Linked DNA regions of Homo sapiens: regions 1 and 2 are each reported to be linked to region 3. Evidence: microRNA targets listed by miRTarBase, many of them from high-throughput screens and not tested one by one. Region 3 holds a microRNA gene; each other region holds the end of a gene's coding sequence.
Evidence for each region. The annotated mature microRNA hsa-miR-4703-5p reads UAGCAAUACAGUACAAAUAUAGU and lies in region 3 at 3,282-3,304, opposite strand. An mRNA with a match to its seed (bases 2 to 7 or 8) in the 3' UTR can be bound and repressed. Matches are read on the target gene's strand: a 7mer-m8 pairs with bases 2 to 8, a 7mer-A1 pairs with bases 2 to 7 and ends in A, and an 8mer does both.

Region 1 (7,205 bases), not on the chromosome of region 3:
TCAGTTTAAGTCACAGGGGCTAATTTATCTAAAACATTCACAGATATAATGTATTTCATCCATAGCAAGCTATTTATTCTACTTTTAGTGGAAAAAAAAGTCAAACTCTCCCCTCGCCAAACAGCCCCCTTCATATTTATGACTAATATATAGTAACTCATGGTGGGATCCCATTATACCTATTCTCTTCCATACTTAGCTGCTCCCCTCAGACCCACATATAAGCTGGACCATTTGGAACCATCTACTTAAACAAAACCTGTGATTAAAAAAACACGTAAAATCTACCATTTTAACCATTTTAAGTGTACAGTTCAGTAGTTTAAGTATATTCACATTGTTCTGCAACAGATCTCTAGAACTCTTTCATCTTGTAAACTGACGCTATACGCACCAAACAACTCCCCATTTTCACCCCCACCAGCTCTTGGCAACCATCATTCTATTAATACTTTCCATTTCTATGAATTTGACTACTTGATATCTTATATAAGTGGAGCCATACAATAGTTGTGTGTGTGTGACTGGTTTATTTCACTTAGCATAATACTATCAAGGTTCATCCATGTTGTTGCCTGTGATAGGATTTCCTTACTTTTTTTTTTTTTCTTCCCTGAGACAGAGTCTTAGAACAGTCTCTGTTACCCAAGCTGGAGTGCAATGGCATGATCTCGGCTCACTGCAACCTCCGCTTCCCGGGTTCAAGTGATTCTCCTGCTCAGCCTTCCAAGTAGCTGGGATTACAGGCATGCACCACCATGCCTGGCTAATTTTTGTATTTTTAGTAGAGATGGGGTTTCACCATGTTGGCCAGGCTGGTCTTGAACTCCAGGCCTCAAGTGATCCACCTGCCTCAGCCTCCCAAAGTGCTGGGATTACAGGTGTGAGCCACCTGTGCCCTGCTGATTTCTTTCCTTTTTAAGACTGAATAATATTCCATTCTATGAGTATACCACATTTTGTTTATCCATTCATCTGTCAATGAACATTTGGGTTGCCTCCATATCATGGGTATTGTGAATAATGTTGCCATGAATATAGGTTTGCAAATCTCTCTTTGAGATCTTGTTTTCAGTTCTTTTGTGTATATACTCAGAAGTGATGTCTTAGTTCAAGCTGAGATAACAAAAAATATAGTTTGGGTGACTTAACAAAAGTTCATTCCTCACAGTTCTTAAGACTAGGAAGTCCAAAGTCAAGGTGCTGGCCAGTTCAGTTTGTGGTCAAGGCCCTCTTCCTGGTTTGCAGAGGGCTGCCTTTTTGCTCTATCCTCACATGGTGGAGAGAGAGATCATCTCTCACCTGTCTCTCCTTATAAGGGTTTACTGCCACTCATGAGGGCTCCACCCTCAAGACCTAATTACTTCCCAAAGACCACAGGGCTTCAACATGTGAATTTTGGGGGAATGCAAATATTCAGTCCACAGCAAGTGGAATTGCTGTATCATATGGGAATTCTATTTTTAACTTTTTGAGGAACCTCCATCGTGTTTAAGTGGTGATTATCATTTTACATTGTTACCAATGCCACATAAGTGTTCCAATTTCCCCACATCCTCACCAACACTTGTTATTTTGGGAGTTTTAAAAATAGTAGCCACCCTGATGAGTGTGAGGTAATGTGTCTTTGTAATATTGATTTACATTTTTTATAATTAGTCAGGCTGAGCACCTTTTCATAATTTTTGTTTGTTGGTCATTTGTATTATCATCTTTGGAGAAATGTCTATTCAAGTCTTTGGACTTTTCTTTTTTTTTTTTTTTTTGGAGATGAAGTCTCGCTCTGTCACCATGCTGGAGTGCATGGAGTACGGTGGCGCGATCTCAGCTCACTGCAATCTCCGCTTCCCAGGTTCAAGCCATTCTCCTGCCTCAGCCTCCAGAGTAATCCCAGTGGGTTACCGGTGCACACCACCATGCCCAGCTAATTTTTGTGTAGAGACGGGGGTTTTCCTATGTTGGCCAGGATGGTCTCGATCTCCTGACCTCATGATCTGCCTGCCTCGGCCTCCCAAACTGCTGGGATTACAGGCATGAGCCACCACTCCCAGCCCCATTTTTTAGTTATTTGGTTTTTTGAGTTGTAGGAATTCTTCATATATTCTGGATATTAACCTCTTATCAAATATATGATTTGTAAATATTTTCTCCTATCCCATAGGTTGCCTTTTCACTCTGTTGATTATGTCCTTTGATGCACAGACATTTTTAAGTCTGATGTAATTCCAATGGTCTTTTTTTCTTTTGTTGCCCATAATTTCTGTGTCATATCTAAGAAATCATTGCCAAATCCAATGTTGTGAAACTTTCCCCGTGTTTTCATCTAGTTTTACAGTTGTCAGTCTTACATTTAGGTCTTTGAGTTTTTTAATATATAAGGGTCCAACTTCATTCTTTTGCATGTGCATATCTAGTTTTCCTAGCACCATTTGTTAAAGAGACTGTCCTGTCCTTATTGAGTGGTCTTGGTACCTTTGCTAAAGATGATTTGGCCATATATGTGAGAATTTATTTCTGGACCCTATTCCATTGGCCTGTATGTTTGACTTTGTGCCAGTTCCACATTATTTTGATTACTGTTGCTTTGCAATATGTTTTGAAATCAGGGAGTGTGAGACCTCCAACTTTGTTCTTTTTCAAGATTGTTTTGGCTATTCAGGGTCCATTGAAGATTCTAGATGAATTTTGGCATGGAATTCTCTACTTCCGTGAAAAATGCCATTGGGATTTTGATAGAGATTGCATTGAATCTACAGGTCACTCTGGGTGACCATGAGATGTCTTTCCATTTATTTGTGTCTTTAATTTCTTAGTAATGCTTTACAGCAGGGGTCCCCAACCCATGGGCCATGGACCAGTCCTAGTCTGTGGCCTGTTAGGAACTGGCTGCACAGCAGGAGGTGAGTTGTGGGCAAGCAAGCATTACTGCCTGAGCTCTGCCTCCTGTCTGATCAGCTGCAGCACTGGATTTTCATAGGAGCTTGACCCTATTGTGAACTGTGCATGTGAGGGATGTGGGTTGTGCACTCCTTGTAAGAATCTAATACCTGATGATCTGAGGTGGAACAGTTTTATCCTGAAACCATCCCCCACTGCACCGTCCACCCTGGGTCCATGGAAAAACTGTCTTCCATGAAACCAGTCCCTGGTGCCAAAAAGGTTGGGGACTGCTGCTTTAGTTTTCAATGTGTAAGTCTTTTGTCTTAGTCTGTTCAGGCTACTGTAACAAAATACCTTAGACTGGGTAATTTATAGATAACAGAAATTTATTGCTCACAGTTTTGGAGGCTGGGAAGTCCGATATCAAGGATTTAGTGCCTAGTGAGTGTTTTCTTCCTCACAGATGGCACACTCTAGCTGTGTCCTTTCATGGTAGAAGGGGAGCTCCCCAGACCTCTATTAAAGGGCACTAATCCCATTCATGAGAGCAGAGCCCTCTTGATCTTATCACCTCCCAAAGGCCTACTTTTTTAATATCACCACATTGAGGATTACATTTCAGCATACAACATACATCAACATACAAATGTAGGGGAAGACACAAACATTCAGCCATCACATATCCCCTTGGTTAGGTTTATTCCTAAGTATTTTATTCTTTTTGATCCTATTGTAAATGGAATTGTTAAATTTTTTTGGATCATTCATTGTTAGTGTATAGAAATACAACTGATTTTTGTGTGCTGACTTTGTATCCTACAACTTTGCTGAATTTATGCTTCCTCTTGATCACACCATCCTCTGCTGGGGAAGAGCTAGGGTGAGCAAAATCCACAAACTTTCCTAGCCTTTTGGTGCGGCCTTTTCCTGGCTTTGCATTTGCCTAAATGCTGCAGTTTCCCAATTGGTTTCTAGAGTTCTCACAAAGATATTCTGGCCCATATATTGTTAACTCAGCGTCTCTGGGAGAATGAGGACGTGGAGTTCCCAAGTCCATCATCTTGCTGACATTACTCCCATCTACCAGTGTTAGCAAAAAACTAGTATGATGATTCATATATGATATTCACATATACAAATATGCTAGTAACATTTCTGATTCATGTATGATATTCACATATATGAATATGCTAATAAAATTTCAGAGTATATTGATAAAAAGTGCTTATCCAACAAGTTTTACTTATCTACTTATCTCCTGGTGGTCTGTATCAAAATCAATCTCATTCTTAGAGATGATAAAGTTTGGCCTAATAAAAAATTTTCCCAAATACGGCCAAAACAACTCAAGATTTTAACTCTTGAATCCTGGGACCCTCAACCAGAAATCTTCTCATGATTATTTTAGAAGAAAATTTTCCTCTGGTTGGGGAAGGTTTTGATATCCCCAGTGTAATGTACCTTCCCTAATTATTTTGGAAACTACTGGTTTCAAAGATTATATAGTAACATTAGAAATCCTGTGTGTTTAGTTTTGAGAAAACACTCCAACAGGAAGCACCTGCTAAATGGAAGGCATTGAAACATTAACTTTGTATCACATGCACTTTTATTACTTTAGGTATAAACATATTTTTTAACTCATTAAAATTTTGATTTCAATTTCTAAGTGATTATAAGTTCCAGTGGACTAAATGCATTCTAGTTGATCTTGTTTTGTGATCACTCTACTGCTGATTAGAATCTCTACTAGAAATTTTGTATTTTCAAGAGGAGGAACAAAGAGCAGAAATGGGATAAGTAAAATTTTAACTATCTTCTTGGGTTCAATTGTATTGCTCTGGTGAGAGAACTCAGCAGCAGGCAGAAGAGGACAAAGGCATGATGCATATTCAATGAGTAATGCACTTATAAGTAAGTTTCTTTAAATATAAAACATATTGAAGATAATAATACTCTATTCCTAGCTAAGGTTATAGTCTTGTCTTCTCATGAGAGTAAATATCCTTGAGGACAGGTACCACCTCTGTTCAAAATTGATCCTTCCCAACCCCTACTTCCACACTACCCCATACATTTGTAGGCAGGCACTAGATTGAGCTCAATAAATGTTTTGAGGAGTAACTAACAGAGTTATCATCACAACAGCTTCAGTTAAACTTAGAGCTATTTCTACTTGTCTGATGAGTGTCATTTTTTGTTCTGTAGTCTCTCCCTAATGAATCCTTCTTTTTAGTAATTCTTAAAATTCTATTGGAACTCTAAAACAGTTGAAAAGAGAGCAGGCATAGGGCCATACCAGTCATTTCCAAGATAAAAATGGTCTCAGATAAGATTCTAAAGAAAGTCCACTCCTCTTTGTATGTTTCAAAATGGCTTCAAGTGTTGTTTTGCCATTTAAGTGTGAATGTACTTGGCTTATGAAAGTAGATAGAAACTCAAAATTATTACTAATAGTGAAGTCATGATTTTTTAAGAGATTGAGACAGCAAATAAAATTGGAGAAAAATTCTTCTTTATTTAAAAATACCAGTAATACTGACAGACTTCAAAAGCAATTCACGCTTCCAGAATACAAAGTACTTAATACATATTTTCAAACCTGTTTGCATTTCAAACAAAGTTAGCGTTTTTGTAAATCAAATTTGATAACCCGACTAAAAATATTTTCCAGCTTTATTATTTAAGGAGCTGCACAGCCTTTAAAGTGGGGACCAGGAGGCAGGCAGAGGCAGAGAGACTGAATGCACCCAGGACTGCGCAGCAGTCTACAGCAACATGTCCCACAACTTTGGTGCTGGAAACACAAGTAATGCACAAGACAGCTGCCCTCCAGTGTCAGGATCCTGTGAAACAGCATATCAAAAGATCGCCAGCTTCTTATAATTTACACACTTTCATTTAGGATTGCTTTTTGAAGAAAATCTTTAAGAATGCCATTTTAATTTAATATCCAGAACCCTGAATTTAAAAAACTAATGAAAGAAATTAACTGTTACCATCAAAATGGTTGTTGCTGAGCTGTGTGAGTAGGAATTCTATGCTTTTTTAGATGCAAGAAAATTAACACATAATGCAAGTTTAATTTGAAATCACACAAGTTATGTATGTAGGCTCAGATAGTAGCAATGTTCACTTTTATTACTAATAGCTTAACTGAAACAGCCATCTATTCATTCCTCCAGCAGGAATAGCAGCACCAAGATCTTCTAAAATTCTTTACATATAAAGCTTAAGTCATTATCCAAGTCCCATTCTTTGCATGCTCCAATTCTTGTTATCTTATTTAACATAAAAGCAACAGGATTTGGAGAGTTACTATTTGCTGTATTAAAACAGTTACACAGCATCTTGTACTGTCAAAAAGCAAAATACTGTGAATGGCAGCCTGTCTTCACAGCTCTAAACTTGAAGCTGCCAAACAGTCACTGCTTGTGCCAGCAGTGGTTTTCCACAGAAAAATAGCAGAAACTAAAGGAATCATGGCACAATGGATTTCTGAATTATTTTGTCTACCATTGGTCCTGGGGCTTAGTACCTTCCCCCTTGTAGACTATATCTGCTGATCATTCCAGAATCATCTTTAATGAAGGAAAGGCATCAGGTCATATAGCGGGTAATGGCTCTCAGAGCATAAAGGAGTTCTGCTTGCATCCTAGCTTCTATAAGAAGCAGATTAACATGAACCTGAATATAAAATACAACATCATATAAGGAAGGGTTACAAGCATTCACAATCAGTTTTTCAGTGAATCTAATGAACACATAAAATAAGTACACTTCCTACACTTCCTATGTAGTACAGCATAACTTAGCCTTGGGTTTGTTGAACAGATTATAAATTTCTCAAAACAGCAGCTATCTTTTTTTTTTTTTTTTGATGCACACTTTCACTCTTTCCCAGGCTCGGGTGCAGTGGCACGATCTTGGCTCACTACAACCTCCACCTCCTGGGTTCAAGCGATTCTCATGCCTCAGCTTCCCATGTAGCTGGGAATACAGGTGCATGCCACTATGTCCAACTAATTTTTTGGTATTTTTAGTATCACCATGTTGGACAGTCTGGTCTTGAACTCCTGATCTTAAGTGATCAGCCTGCCTTGGCCTCCCCAAGTGCTGGGATTACAGGTGTGAGCCACCATACCTGGCCTAATATTCTTTTTGGATAGATTGAGCTTTCATTTATATTTTATCATGTTTCTTGGAGGTTTGTTACATGTCAGAAAATCTAGACACTGTTTTATCAGAATAGCAACTTCCCCTGCCAAATCATTATTCAGTAATTTCTATAAAGATGTTTCAAAGAGAACAGACACTTCTACCTA
Region 2 (7,205 bases), not on the chromosome of region 3:
CCAAATGCATTTATTTCTGTTCATAAAATAAAAGTTTAAAATATCTTTCCTATTCTGTAGGTGTTGATGGGCAGGGTGCCTGACAGAGGTGGTAGACCCAATGAAATCGAACCTCCACCCCCAGAGATGCCACCGTGGCAGAAGAGGCAAGATGGCCCCCAGCAGCAAACAGGAGGCCGAGGAGGAGGGAGAGGTGGCTATGAACATTCCTCATACGGAGGACGAGGAGGTCATGAACAAGGAGGCGGGAGAGGTGGACGTGGTGGCTATGACCATGGTGGCCGAGGGGGAGGAAGAGGAAATAAGCATCAAGGAGGCTGGACAGATGGAGGGAGTGGTGGAGGAGGTGGCTACCAAGATGGTGGTTATCGAGATTCAGGTTTCCAGCCAGGTGGCTATCATGGTGGCCACAGCAGTGGTGGCTATCAAGGCGGAGGTTATGGTGGCTTCCAAACATCTTCTTCATATACAGGAAGTGGATACCAGGGTGGTGGCTACCAGCAGGACAATAGATACCAAGATGGCGGGCACCATGGTGATCGTGGTGGTGGTCGTGGTGGGCGAGGTGGTCGTGGAGGCCGAGGTGGTCGTGCAGGCCAGGGAGGAGGCTGGGGAGGAAGAGGGAGCCAGAATTATCACCAAGGGGGTCAATTTGAACAGCATTTCCAGCATGGAGGTTATCAGTATAATCATTCTGGATTTGGACAGGGAAGACATTACACTAGTTGAGGCTACCGAACCTTACATTTTGCTAGAGCTCAAGTAATAGAAACTTAGTTTCAGAATCCTGAATTCAGCACCTATTTTGAATTAATGTGAGACCACAGGTGGCAGGCAGATTCCTGCTTGGCATAAGCATTTGTAGGTCTTCATTCAATTCTGTTAGATTTTTTTATTGGACTTACATAATGCCGTTTATTTGAGAAACACATAACATCTCTCCTTTCTATGAAAAATTTTTTAAAAGGTGGTTAAAATTGCCTTTAATTGCCCAGTAGACTAATTCCACAGTCAGAACATGCAAACTTTTTTGAAGAAATTACTTGAATAAGTAGTTTTCATGTTTTCAATATGCAGTTTTGAAAATGAGGATTCACCTAGACTTTTTTAGATTTACTACTAGGAAACCTTCCTCATATGAATAACCATTTATATGTGTTTTGCTTAAAGTATTCCAATGCCTATTTTCCAAGCACAGTTCTGCCCCCCGGTTGACTTTTATGCCACGTGTGCTTCATGATGGAACTTTTAGGTCAGTTCCTATTAAATGAGCTCTTTTGCAGATAGCACATTCAGTAGCCTTATTTTGTTGATGGAATACTGTATCATATGCTCAACTCTGAAAACCTTGAACACGGCCAAAATCCATAAAGATTATAAAAGCAAACTAAGTTGTGAAGCTATAGTACATGTAGGCATTTAGTTAAGTATAGCAATTCAAACTGACCTGCATCCATCCAAAACAAATTCCTCCTTCAACCTTATTTTTACTTGAAATTTGCTAGAAGAAATAGCAAACCGAAATTTGTTTTATGCATGAGTTAATACCACTGGCTCAGCAAATACAAGTTAGTTTGCTTTAAGCAGGTAACTTTTTTTGTAATGGAAGAAATGCACTACAAAGTTAAGACAGATTTTTGCTAAGTGCAGGAGGCCCTTTATTATTGCTGCAGAAAACAAAAGCCTGGCTGAGTTGATGTTTTACATTCTCCCTTACTGAAATCTACATGACATGATGCTTCTTGCTGGGTTTTTGTACATGTAAACATTGTCAAGCTGTGAAAGAAAATGGCTGGAGGTGTGCTTTGTGTGAAAGGTGAGCAATAAAGTATCTGTTAAGTTCTCTCTTTGGTTTGAGTTTTATTTTAGCTACTGAATTATTCTGGACTCTTGCGTCAAGCTGATGAGCTAAGGCTTTTGTTCCCAAAGATTCTTGAGTATTTCCTTAAAACCTAATTTTAGTGAAAGGTGACTTTTATCCTAAAACCTTAAATAAATGGAAAAATGGCTCTTTCCAGGTTTTCCTTTTATAATAATATAGCTAGAAACCGTCACCACTCATCTCTGGCCACTGGGTGTAGCTGTTGCTACACATACTAGGCAAAAATGTTTTTAGGGTTTTTTTGTTATTTGCTTCTCCATTCTTCCTAAGATTGGGGGACTTTTTTTAAAAAAGGAAGTAACTGAAAATATAAATATGTTTATCAAAAGAGAAATTGTATTTCCTTTCTACTAAATTGGGCTTTTTTAAAGAATCAACTCATGTCATGCCATTTAAAATAATCTACTTGCTACTGAGATAAGCACATTCTTCTAATACTAAAACCATCTTTGAAAACCCACATTGATCCTTTTAACTTTACCTGTTTATTTTTCAGCTAACATTTACAATTATTTTAAAATGTTCAAATTTGAAGACAATTTCAAGTGTTTTATCATTAAAGTAAGTTAAGGTTTTAAGTTGTCTTGAATGTTGTGTTGGTTTCTTTAAACTGTTAAGTAATTATGTTTATATAGGATTTCCTATTAAAATTGTCAAGGTTTCATATTTTAAATGTATCATATCTTAGGATGTATTTATATTTAGTATTTGCTTTGATCTGTTTTGTAGCCTCAGACTCCACAATATAGCTAATGAATACAGGTTTCATTCTTTTGAAAAATATTTTGATTTATCTTTACGGTTAATAGATTGCTTTTTCGAATATAAGGATGTAAGAACACAAATGATACATTTCGCCCTGATAGTTCTGAAATCTGCAGCTCCTGCTTCAAACTAGATTTTCCCCCAACATTATTATTTTTTAAAAAACTTCTATGTTCAGGGGTACATGTGAAGGTTTGTTATACAGGTAAACTTGTGTCACAGCGGTTTGTTGTACAGACTATTTCATCATCCAGGTATTAAGCCCAACACCCGAAGGTTATCTTTTCTGTTCCTCTAGTTCCTCCCACCCTCCACCCTCAAGTAGACCCCTATCTGTTGTTTCCCTCTTTTGTGTTCATGCGTCTTCATCATTTAGCTCCCACTTATAAGTGAGAATATGTGGTATTTGGTTTTCTGTTCCTGTGTCAGTTTGCTAAGGATAATGGCCTCCAGTTCCAGCCTTGTTCCTGCAAAAGACAGGATCTCATTCTTTTTTATGGCTATATGGTATTTTATGGTGTGTACATGTACCACATTTTCTTTATCCAGTTGGTCATTGATGGGCATTTAGGTTGATTCCGTGTCTTTCCTATTGTGAATAGTGCTGCAGTGAATATATGCGTGCATGTGTCTTTATGGTAGAGTGATTTATATTCCTCTGGATGTATACCCAGTAATGGGATTGCTGGGCCGAATGGTAGTTCTGCTTTTAGCTCTTTGAAGAATCGCCATACTGATTTCCACAATGGTTGAACTAATTTGCACTCCCACCAACAGTGTATAAGTGTTCCCTTTTCTCTGGAACCTTACCAGCGTTTGCTGTTCCTCCCCCGCCTCTCCCCATTCTGAAACCATAAAAGAATTGAGTTTTTTCTCTTGAACATAGATCAAGTTCTCTAGAAACAGGATATTTCAAACCACCAGTTAGTTTTATTGTTATATTAAAGTTCTTAGGTTTTGTATAGAGAGTATCTTTTGATCTTATATGCATTCTTAACCTTAACTTGTAAATAATGATTTACTGGAATATAGGGCATATGAGAATTTCTTGGAGAAACAAGCGAAAAATATTAGGAGAGAATTTTTAACATGATATCTTAAACTGTTATCTCTTAAAACGGATACAGTGAGACAGACAGTACCTTTAGTTAATGTTCTGTTTCCTCCTACTACTAGGAACTAGAATAGGATGTCAGTATTCTCTATGAAAACTATTAAAGATATACCACTATCATTTTTATTTCTTGCTGTAGATCCAAACTAATCTAGTGTCCAACTGTGGTAGACATAGAATAGGCAAATTCTTGCTGAGGGAAGGCATTTGAATCATTTCTATATATACTTAATTGATTTCCCAGTGCCCAGATTACCTCCATCCTTAGACTTAAATATTTTTAGGTTGTGCCCATTGTATCTTTCTGGATACTTTGTCTACCTATATTACATCCTTTTGAAAATAGTTTTTAAATATGTTTATATTATTTAATCATACCCCCGCCTCCCACTTTAGGTAATTTGGATAGCATTTGATCCATTTGTTTTTTAACAGAGAGGGTTACCTAAATAAAATTTAGGTATTTATTTGTATTTTACCTAAATAAAAAAATGAGTTTACCTGAATGAAAAAGTACATTCATCACAGAATACTTAGCATTTTATGACTTCTTATTTTCCTGTTTTTCTTGTTTTTCTCATTCTTCATTATCATAGTAATAACTAGAAATGCTTTTTTTTTCCCTGTGGTTTCCATATTTGTATACACTAATGTATTCCTAGGGTTCAAATCACTGATTCAAACAGGTATGCATGTCAGTGTTTGAACTCACTTTCCGCTTGCACAATTTTAGTCACCTGCAGATGTGCGGTTATAAGTTGGAGTAAACATAACTGTTGGTATGAGAACTTCCACAGTAAATCATTCCCTGCCCACTAAATGTAATAAAGAGGCCGGGGGCAGAAATAGATAGGGAAGAAAAAAAAAATGTTTCCTAGGAATTTGGGTCGGGGAGAAAAAAACCTCTTAAAATGATTGGTATTTGTTAAATTGAGTTATAATTTTTTCAAGAAGAAAAAAGGCCTGGCCAGGCACGGTGACTCAGCCTGTAGTCCCAGCACTTTGGGAGGCCAAGGTGGGCGGATCATCTGAGGTCGGGAGTTCAAGACCAGCCTGGCCAACATGGTGAAACCCCGTCTCTACTAAAAATGCAAAACTTAGCTGTGTTTGGTGGCGGACGCCTGTAATCCCAGCTACTTGGGAGGCTGGGGCAGGAGAATGGCTTGAACCCGGGAGGCAGAGGTTGCAGTGAGCCGAGATTGCACCTCTGCTCTCCAGCCTGGGCAACAGAGGGAAACTCCATCTCAGGGAAAAAAAAAAAAAAAGAAGAAGAAAGGCCTGTAGTTCAGTTCAGTAAAAATGAGTGTCTGCTATATTCTAGCACTGTGCTGGGCTGAGGTAGAAAGTCCATGGCTTGAGAAATGTCTCAGCATGGACTGAGTGACAGAGCCAGAAACATAGGTAATTGTAGCATAAATAATAATGAAAATTATGTGTGGGTACTAGGAGAGCATGGTGTTTCTGTATTGCTTATATGGGGTGGAAATTGGCAGAAATTGGAAAGATTGCAGGGGTCAGGTAATAGAGGGCTCTCCATGCCGTCCTGAGTAACTTGGAGCTACTTTGTGTACGGTAGTATACCAATAACACGGCATATTCAAGTTTGGCTCTGTGTAAATTATTGGCTCAAGAGTAGGGGATAGACTCAAGGAGGAGGGCAAAGGTTGGAATCAGAAGCGTAGAGCTTAAATTAATGTGGTAGACATAGTAAGGGTATAGAAGGGGCAGATTTGAGAATTATGTCGGAGGCAAATATTATAGGAGTATATTAGAACAAGAAATGTAGTATGAACCTTGGTTTTTGGTTTTTTTGGTTTGTGATTGAGTAGATGATGAACTACCAATTGAAATCGAAATTAGAAGAAGGGGGAAAGGTGGGCTGGGGGAAATGATTTCAGTCTGAAACTCCAGAAAATGCCTGGAGATAGAAGTCTGGGAATGATCAACATCCACTGATTTTTGCATTGAAACATTTCATCAGAAAAATGATTCCAAATTAAACCATCCAAAAAGGGAGGAAAGGGGCAGTGGACCAAGGATGGAATCTTAAGGATTAATCAGTTAAGGGATAGATGGAGCAGGGTCACAGAGTAAGAGGGACACCTAGAGAACAGTGTTGTGGAAGCTTAGGGTTGGTAGTAAGAATGGTAATTTATTACTGTTATTACTGTTTATTGAGAGCAACATGAGTACTACTATTAACCCTCTTTTCACATGTAAAGAGTATGAAGCCAGGATAGTTGAGAAGACTTGCCCATATCCATATAGTTAGTAAGCGGGGGAGCTGGAATAAACCTAGGGCCATCTGGCTCCAGAGCTCAGTAATGCACAATTCCAGATGCTACAGAGAAATTCAACGAACTAGAGTTGAAAAATAGCCGTATGTCTTGCGGCGTTTTTGTGTTGGTGTTGTTTTCTTGTGGCATTTTCAAGAGCAGTTTCAGAATAAAAATGAGACCAGTTTTCTGGAGTTTAAGGAAAGAATGAGAAAATAAACCATAAATTTAGATTATAGTTGACCCTGAACAACAGATCCATTTATATGAGAAAGTTTTTCAACCAAATGCCGCTGGAAAATACAGTATTCACAGGATGTAAAGACCTCCGTATAGGGAGGGGCTGATTTTTCATATATGTGGGTTCCACAGGGCTGACTGTGGACTTGACTATGTGTGCATATTGGTATGTGCATTAGTTCAGGGGTCCTGGAACTAATCTCCTGTATACCAAGGGACCACTGTAGTTCTAGAAGCTTCACTGAGAAAGGACTGAGTAAAATAACAGTGTAACATTTAGTGGAATGAAGTGATGTACTCTGAAAGGTTACAAAAAGCCAGGGAAGTCTTAAAGAAAATATAATTGAAAGTCTTTAAGAACCCAAAAGTATCAATAATAGAATTATTTAGGGGTTCAAATATCTAGTACTCTCTCTTTATTTATTGGTTTATAAATGAATAAATGCATGAACGACAGGCCTAGACTAGAGTGATCATAGCTCACTGCAGCCTCGACCTCCCAAGCTCAAGTGATCCTCCCACCTCAGCCTTCCGAGTAGCTGGGTCTGCAGGTGGGCACCACCACACCCAGCTAAGTTTTTTCATTTTTCATAAAGCCAGGGCCTCGCCATGTTGCCCAGGCTGGTCTCAAACTCCTGGGCTGTTGCGATCCTCCCACCTTGGCCTCCCGAAGTGCTGGAATTACAGGTGTGAGCCACAGCGCCTGGCTTCTTATGAGGCATTTACAAAATGGTCGAGATAACAGGCTTATTTTGCAAAATGTATGAAAAGTACTATCAAGTCCTCAGAACAGGTAAGTTTATTCCGAGTTATGCAAAATTTCCAGCACTTATCAAGGCCTTAGTCAACACCAGCTGTATTATCTCTCAAGGTTTAACTGCTTCAGAATTGTTTCTTTTCCAATAGAAACCAATTTATGTGATATGGT
Region 3 (7,205 bases):
GTACAACGTCAACTCTCTCAACCATTCTCTCCTGGCCATCCAGATTCTCTACCCATGGGCAACAACACTGTGACTTACTGCTGCATTCTTCCAGAGACATTTTATGCATATTAGGAAATTTTTTTTCTTTTACATAAAACATAAAGGAACACATAGTTCTGCACTTTCTTTTTTCACTAAAAAATTTATGTCTTACAGATCTTCCCATATCAATATATATCAATACATATCTTTTTTCCTGGCTGTGTGGTATTCCATTGCATGGGTGGACTGTAATCTGTTAAGCCAGTTCCCTTTTGATAGGCCTTTAGGTTTTTCCCAATCCTTTCTGTTTTACAAACAATTCAGCAGTCCTTTTAAACCTCCCTCCAAGTTTCCTACCCAGCTTTTGCCTACATTTCAAAACATCCTGTCACTCTCATCTCACAGAGAAAACAGAGGCCATTAGATTGAAATTCCATCAATTGCCTGCCTCCCATCAATTGCCTGCCACCTTGTACTGTATATTCCTTCAAACCAGGGTGTGGTTCTCAGAATGAGCCATGTTCTCTCTTGCCTGTGTAGCTTTCCATATGCCATTCCCACTCCCACTATCATTGGTTTGCCCAGGAAACCTCTAGTAATCCTTCAAATTCAAGTGTGGATATCATGCCAGAGGGAGTTAATCAGTTGCTGCTGTGTATTATGACTGAACCTTGTTCTCCTCCCACTGTTGTACTCACTATGCTGGTTTAAAATTTGTGTACGAGTCTATATTCTCATAAGTCTGTGAGCACCTTGAGAGCTAATTCATATCAAGATGCCCAGCACTTAGTATAGTCTGGTAATAGAAGCTATTCAACAAATATTTGTTGAATAAATGAATAAATAATGTGAAGATATAAGCATAAGCTGTAACGACAAGTATTTGCAGAAGAGTAGAATGCGTCTTCAACCTTGCATGCTGTGTTGGAAACAGAATTGGACCAGAAAGCAAGAGACCCAAGGCTAGTTCATAGAAACAGCAAACTCTCCCAACATGTTCATTGCTGTATCCTCCATGCCTAGAAGGGCTGGCTCTTGACTGGTGCTGGCCAAGAACAAAGCTTTGTGTTATATTTGGATTTGAATCTGCTAAAGATGAGCTTTATTGCAAATAGTTTGTAAAGAGAAAGTTAGAATCAGAAGGGCTATAACTTTTGGACTAACTGGAGAGCATATGCAATACCCAGTCATGGATAAGTTATCATAATGCCAGTGAACTTATTAAGTTGAACATGTACAATGAATTGGCTTTTACAAATACATTTTATAGATTAAATTACACATATCCTATAGCCACGGGTTTTTCCAGGTTTGGTGCTAATCACATATTTAATCTGGGAAATGAAACAAAACCTTAATGTTAATCTTGGGTCAAGTGGGGTTCTTGGCTCCTTCCCTGTGCACATTAATGAGAGCACTAGTATGACAATCAGAGCCTGAGCCACCATAGATTTAAATTGAAACAAGCCCTTTACCAAACCTGACCTGTCCCCAACCTCCTGTGGTCACCTGAATGCTAATATGCCCCTGCCCTCTCTTCCTTGTCTTATTGAACAATAGTAACATACACGATAATGTCAGTTCTCCACCAATTTATGAAAACAAGATTCTTTCATCCTAATGCTTCTAATCCAATACAGTGACTCACAGATTGTTTTTAAACTAAGAACAAATCAAAGCTTTAGCTTTACAATTTTTATTTCTACAGTGTTCAATAAATATTTGTTGATTGACTGAATGAGTATTTTGCCATTAATTAGCTCTATAACCTTGGGCCAGTTTCATTTAATTTTTCTATGCCTCATTATTCTCATCTATATAATTGAGTTTGATTAAGTCATATTTTTCAAATTATTTTTATGGTTTAAACGCTTTCTTCAAAGCAAATCTTAAGGCCAGGTGTGGTGGCTCACGCCTGTAATCCCAGCACTCTGGGAGGCTGAGGCAGGCACATCACTTGAGGCCAGGAGTTCGAGATCAGCCTGGCTAACATTGTGAAAACCTGTCTCTATTAAAAATACAAAAATCAGCTGGGGGTGGTGGCACACATCTGTAATCCCAGCTAATCGGGAGACTGAGGCAGGAGAATCACTTGAACCCAAGAAGGGGAAGTTGTAGTGAGCCAAGATAGCATCACTGCACTCCAGCCTAGGCAATTGAGCAAGACTCTGTCTCAAAAAAAAAGGAAAAGAAAAAGAAAATCTTAAGCAGAATCTAGCATTTAAAGCAGAAAAAAGTGAGGCTGCTGTAGATGAAATAGGTTTTGGGGCCCTAAGACTCCTCTTTTCCCACCCCCATTTCTGCTCCTGAGCTGCTTTGCTGAACCCACAGGACCCTCTGAGGTACCATTTGTCCAAGCACTGGACTGAATAGAAATACAAATATAAATAGCATTGACTCTCAGACTTGTAAAAACAAAACAAAACAAAAAACTTATAGTCAACTGGATGCAGACAGTCCCAACCTGCAGCCTCTTAACTCTTAGGAATTAAGATTAACCACCCAGACAAATTAATCTGGTTTCTTTGCTTTGGAGGGTATTACATCAACTCAATCAATGTCAATCAATTTTGTAATGCTAAGCTGAATTGGAAATTATATATATATATTTTTGATAAATTAACAATGAACATGACTATATTAATAATAAACAATGAACATGAGAACATGAACAAACTACTAATGAATATATTTTAGTAGACACAATTTCTCAACATATGAAAATGGGGGGAGGAATAAAGGGGATCCTTGGGGAGTGAAAAGGTTCAGAATCACAATGAATTCCTTTTTCTTTCTTTTCATGCAAATAAAATGAGCCAGAGAAAAGTGAAATGGCTTGCCTAAGCCCTCACAGCTTACTTAGTGGCAGATTCTGCATTGGGACCTGGGACTTGTAATTTCCAGCCCAGTGCTCTTTCACTGACCATGTCGTTTCTTTATAAGGTTAGAACTTTACCTTTATGTTTCTGGAATCCCTGATCACCATGCTACAGAATGATAAAACATCCACATTATCTCAGCATTCATTATCTGAGTCCCTGAAGTCTGAAGCAGTATAGGAGACTAAAAGTCATCATAACCTAGAAACGTTTATTTATCAAATGACTGCTTATAAAAGCCACTCAGTCATATCCACTAAACATTAGCTTTGCTTCCTTCCTTCTAGGAGCAACTTTTTTGTTAGGTAGGTATCTAGCTGATGATTGGATTTTTATACAGAGTGGCAATACAATACAACTACAGTGCAAATCAAACACACTATATTTGTACTGTATTGCTAATATGCATAAAGCAAATCTCGCAAATGGTATAGGATTTTATGGGATTAATAAGAGGAAGCTGAATGCTTAGTCCACAGTGAAAGAGGGAGAAAAATATAGCTGATATTGTTATCGAGTAAAAGGGGCTCACTGTCCAATGCACTAGAAGCCCATACTATGACACCATGTTCTTGAGAAAAGAAAAGCTTTGTACTGAAAGTCAATCCCAAGGAGACAGAAGTCAAGCTCAAATCTGTCTCCCTGTGCTGCCTTCAAAACAGTATTTTTATTAGAAAAGTTTCAGGGGGTGGATTCTGAGATTAGCAGGTGATTGGTGGAAGGAAAGCAGAAGTCTGGAAAGTCCTTGGGCATGCTCAGTTATCTCTTCATGCTATCTCATGTATCACATGTGCAAATTCAGGGGGAGTTGGTATGAAACATAGGGTGGAAATTCAGGCTGCGTTGTCAGCAAGCTCCTTCTGCACCGACTCCAGTTGGTCATATTGGTTCCAAAGGATTTCAGCCATTTCTTTTATCTGATAAGCAGAGGGCATTTCAGCCTTTCAGTAGGTGTTTTTTTTTTTTTAATCTGTCATTCTGCAAACTCAAGAATTTGTTAGTCATTGGTTTCTTTAACTCTTTTGGGCATAGTTTCAGTATTGAAGAGTTAGACAAGGGCCAAATTAGGGAGGGCCTTATGGGTTTCATTAATGGTTTTCATCCTGATTGTCTTTTAAGCAGGAGAACTGTCATCAGATTCACCTCTAAAATTTTCATTTTGAAATTGGCAAATACACTAAAATATATAATCTAGCAATCGTATTTCTGTGATTCTATGTCATAGAGGCATATCCACTTGTAGAAACAACACATGTATCAGGTTATTTATTGTTGTATTATTTGTAAGAGCAAAAAATGGATCTGACTCCCATATTCAACAAAAGGGGCCTGGTTAAATAAACAATGGTATGACATGCAGCTGTCAAAACAAATAAGGAAGCTCTCTATGTAGTGATACATATGGAAAGAGCTTTAGGACATATGGCAAGGGAAAGAAAGCAAGATGTAGAACAGTGTATATGGTAGGCTATCTTTTGTGCAGTAAGGTGGGAGAAAATATATTTGAATATGCTTGTATTTGCCTTAAAAACCCTAGGAGGATTTTAAAAATATATGGGTGGAAGGGATATCATCGGAGGGTTGGGGTGAGAAGTGCAGGAGTGAACGCAAGACTTCTCTGAACATCTCTTTTTATAGTGTGTTAAATTTTGAACCTTGTCAATGTAGTACTTAATACAAACAAATCCATTTAAAAATCACTCTGGCAGCTCTATGGAGAGTGGATTGTAGGGAAATAGAGTAGAAGCTGGAGCCGATTTAGGAAGCCACTAAAGTAGTTCAGGCAATGGCTGAAGGTGGTTGGCACTTACTTGGAGGTAGCGGTGGAGCTGGTGAGAAATGGTGAGCTCAAGCTTGTGGAGCCAACTGGACTTGCTGGTGGATATAGTGTATGAGAGAAAAAAAGAAATAAAGAATAATTCCTAGATATTTGTCTTGAGCAACTGGAGGAGAAGAGAAGATAGAGTGAAGGTGGGAAGAAAATGCAAGGAAAACAGAATCGAGGGTTCTGTTTTGGACACATTTTTAATACTGGCATGCCTGTTAGGTGTCGAAGTGAACATATCTACAACTAGAGAAACATCAAGGAGGATAATGACAGCAGAGATGTTTCCAAAAATAATGAGTTCAAAATTAAAGGATTGAGAGGCCCTGGGAAAAGTTCATAAAATCCTTGAACGTTTTTGTCAAAATGTCCATCTTCACTATCATGCTGTACAAATAAAATATAAAGTGGAGAATGTCATTTGGGCTATTTTAAAATTTCATTGGAAAAATTACATCCCCAAATTCCAATCCATTTATTCTTAGTTCTAACAGGAAGTATGTAGATGTCATTATAGCTTACATTTTGTTACATATGAAGTATAATAAATATGATTTCACAGTTTGTATTGCATTTTTCAAGATAAAGCTTGAATGCAAGCTTTTTCACTATTTACTATAAAATGTAAGTGGCCTTTTTGATATCCTGAACAAAATGCAAAAGGACTGCTATAGTTTGAGTGTGTCCCCTCCAAAATTTGGGTGTTGAAACATAATGGCTCGTGATGGCATTAAGAGTTGGTGCCTTTAAAAGATGATTAGTCTATAGTCTCCTCCCTCAAGAATGGAATTAAGGAACTCATAAAAGAGGCTTCACTTAGCCTTTGGCCCTCTTGTCCTTCCCTTCAGAAGATGCAGCAACTTCTGCATTACCAGACACCAAACCCACCAGAGCCTTGATTTTGGACTTCTCAGCCTCTGGAATTGTGAAAAATAAACTTCTGTGCTTTATAAATTACAGGATAGAATCTTGCAGTGGCAAAAACACAGGGAAACAGATATAACAGAAACATTTTCTCTTCAACAGCAAGTTCACATCTTTATTAACAGAATAACTTTCTACATTTCCTAAATTCATGATGGCAGGAGGTGGAGAGTAACAATTTCTCTTACTTTACTGCCCTAGAAGTTAAATAAGTATTACTTGGTAAAAAATGCAAAACTGCTCTCTTAAGAATTCTGCCGTCAACTACTAATTTTTCTTTTGTGCATTTATCCTGAGTAGGACAGGCTTTGGAAATGTTCCAGTTAATACAAGCAGAGACTTACTGGTTGTAGTGTTTGCTGTGATGTCCAATGTGGTAGTCAGCTAGGGTGGCTATAACAAATTTCTGTAGACTGGGTGGCTAAAACAACAAACATTGATTTCTCATGGTTCTGGAAGCTGGAAGCTTGAGATCAGGGTGCAGGTATGGTCAGGTTCTGGTGAGGACTCTCTTCCTGGTTATGTCCTCACAAGGCCTTTCCTTGGTGCACGAGTGCAGAGAGAGAGAAAGAGAGAGAGAGTGCTTTTGTCTCCTCCTTTTATAAGGGCATTAATCTCATCACAGGGGCTTCACCTTCATAACTTCATTTAAACCTAATTACCTTTCAAAGCCTCATTTCCAAATACCATCAATTGAGGATTAGGGTTTCAACATATACGTTTTGGAAGAACACAAATATTTGGTCCATTGCATAGCACCCAGCCCAGAACCCCCTTCAGGCTGGAGACCCTCATACTCTCTGGTGCAGGGAGTGTTGGCTGCTGACAGGTTACAGCTGAGGCCTCCCAAAGACTTGCCTTCAATGAAGGAAGTGGCCTCTCCCAAGGTCTCCTATCCACAGGGGTGAGGGGGTGGCTACAACAGGGGTGGGAGATGCAAAGATCCAGTCCTCTTGACTCAGTTCCAGACAACCTGAATGAGTCATCCCACCTCCTGAGCGCCCCTCCCCAAGAGGTCACCTCAGGCCAAACTCTGCCGCTGTCCTACTTCCTCATGCCCTCACAAGTGTTTTCTCAATAGACGCCTGCACACAACTCTCTGTCTCAGAATCTACTTCTTGGGAAACCCAACCTAAGACACAAGAAGACCTCATTAACAGCATATTCAAGTAATCAATAATCAAATGATACAGATTTCTCTACATTTTGTGTAGGTTAAGCCACAGTGTAAAAAAAGCAAACATGGTGGATAATGCTCAAAATATAGAATACATGATCAGACACTCCCAGGGCTTGCTGTATGCACTTCGCATATATCACACATACATTCGTGGAAGAGAAATATCTTAGGTCTGTTTGGTACCATATGATTTTGGCTGTCGCAGGAAGTAGTCTCTTTGCTCATTATAACTGATCTCTGAATTCATTACCATAAGAGACTACCAAGTTTTGATCCCATTATGCTAGAATTTATTTTTGTTTCTTAAAGATGTATAACAACAGGGAGCCCAGCTTCAAGCAGGGTATAGTTGGAAAAAATGAAGAGTAAATAA

Region 1: the mRNA of SESN1 is a reported target of hsa-miR-4703-5p. Seed matches in the 3' UTR shown: 7mer-A1 at 6,004-6,010.
Region 2: miRTarBase lists FAM98A as a target of hsa-miR-4703-5p. Seed matches in the 3' UTR shown: 7mer-m8 at 1,663-1,669.

Annotation. Positions count from the first base shown.
Region 1 is chr6:108,981,064-108,988,268 of GRCh38, forward strand. SESN1 (sestrin 1) reads right to left here. Exons shown (of 10, transcript NM_014454.3): 10 at 3,246-6,567. The coding sequence ends at 6,481. It also overlaps a transcript of ARMC2 not described here. Among named protein-coding and RNA genes, the nearest start is that of ARMC2-AS1, 61 kb to the left of the region's middle. RefSeq lists a silencer at 1,150-1,350.
Region 2 is chr2:33,578,300-33,585,504 of GRCh38, reverse strand. It overlaps FAM98A (family with sequence similarity 98 member A), which reads left to right. Exons shown (of 8, transcript NM_015475.5): 8 at 61-1,845. The coding sequence ends at 729. Among named protein-coding and RNA genes, the nearest start is that of RASGRP3-AS1, 12 kb to the right of the region's middle. RefSeq lists an enhancer at 1,237-2,056.
Region 3 is chr13:51,548,698-51,555,902 of GRCh38, reverse strand. It overlaps MIR4703 (microRNA 4703), which reads right to left and starts at 3,314; the gene lies at 3,236-3,314. LOC124903175 (a long non-coding RNA gene) reads right to left here and starts at 6,779. Exons shown (of 4, transcript XR_007063804.1): 1 at 6,673-6,779; 2 at 5,997-6,193; 3 at 4,715-4,778; 4 at 3,752-3,820.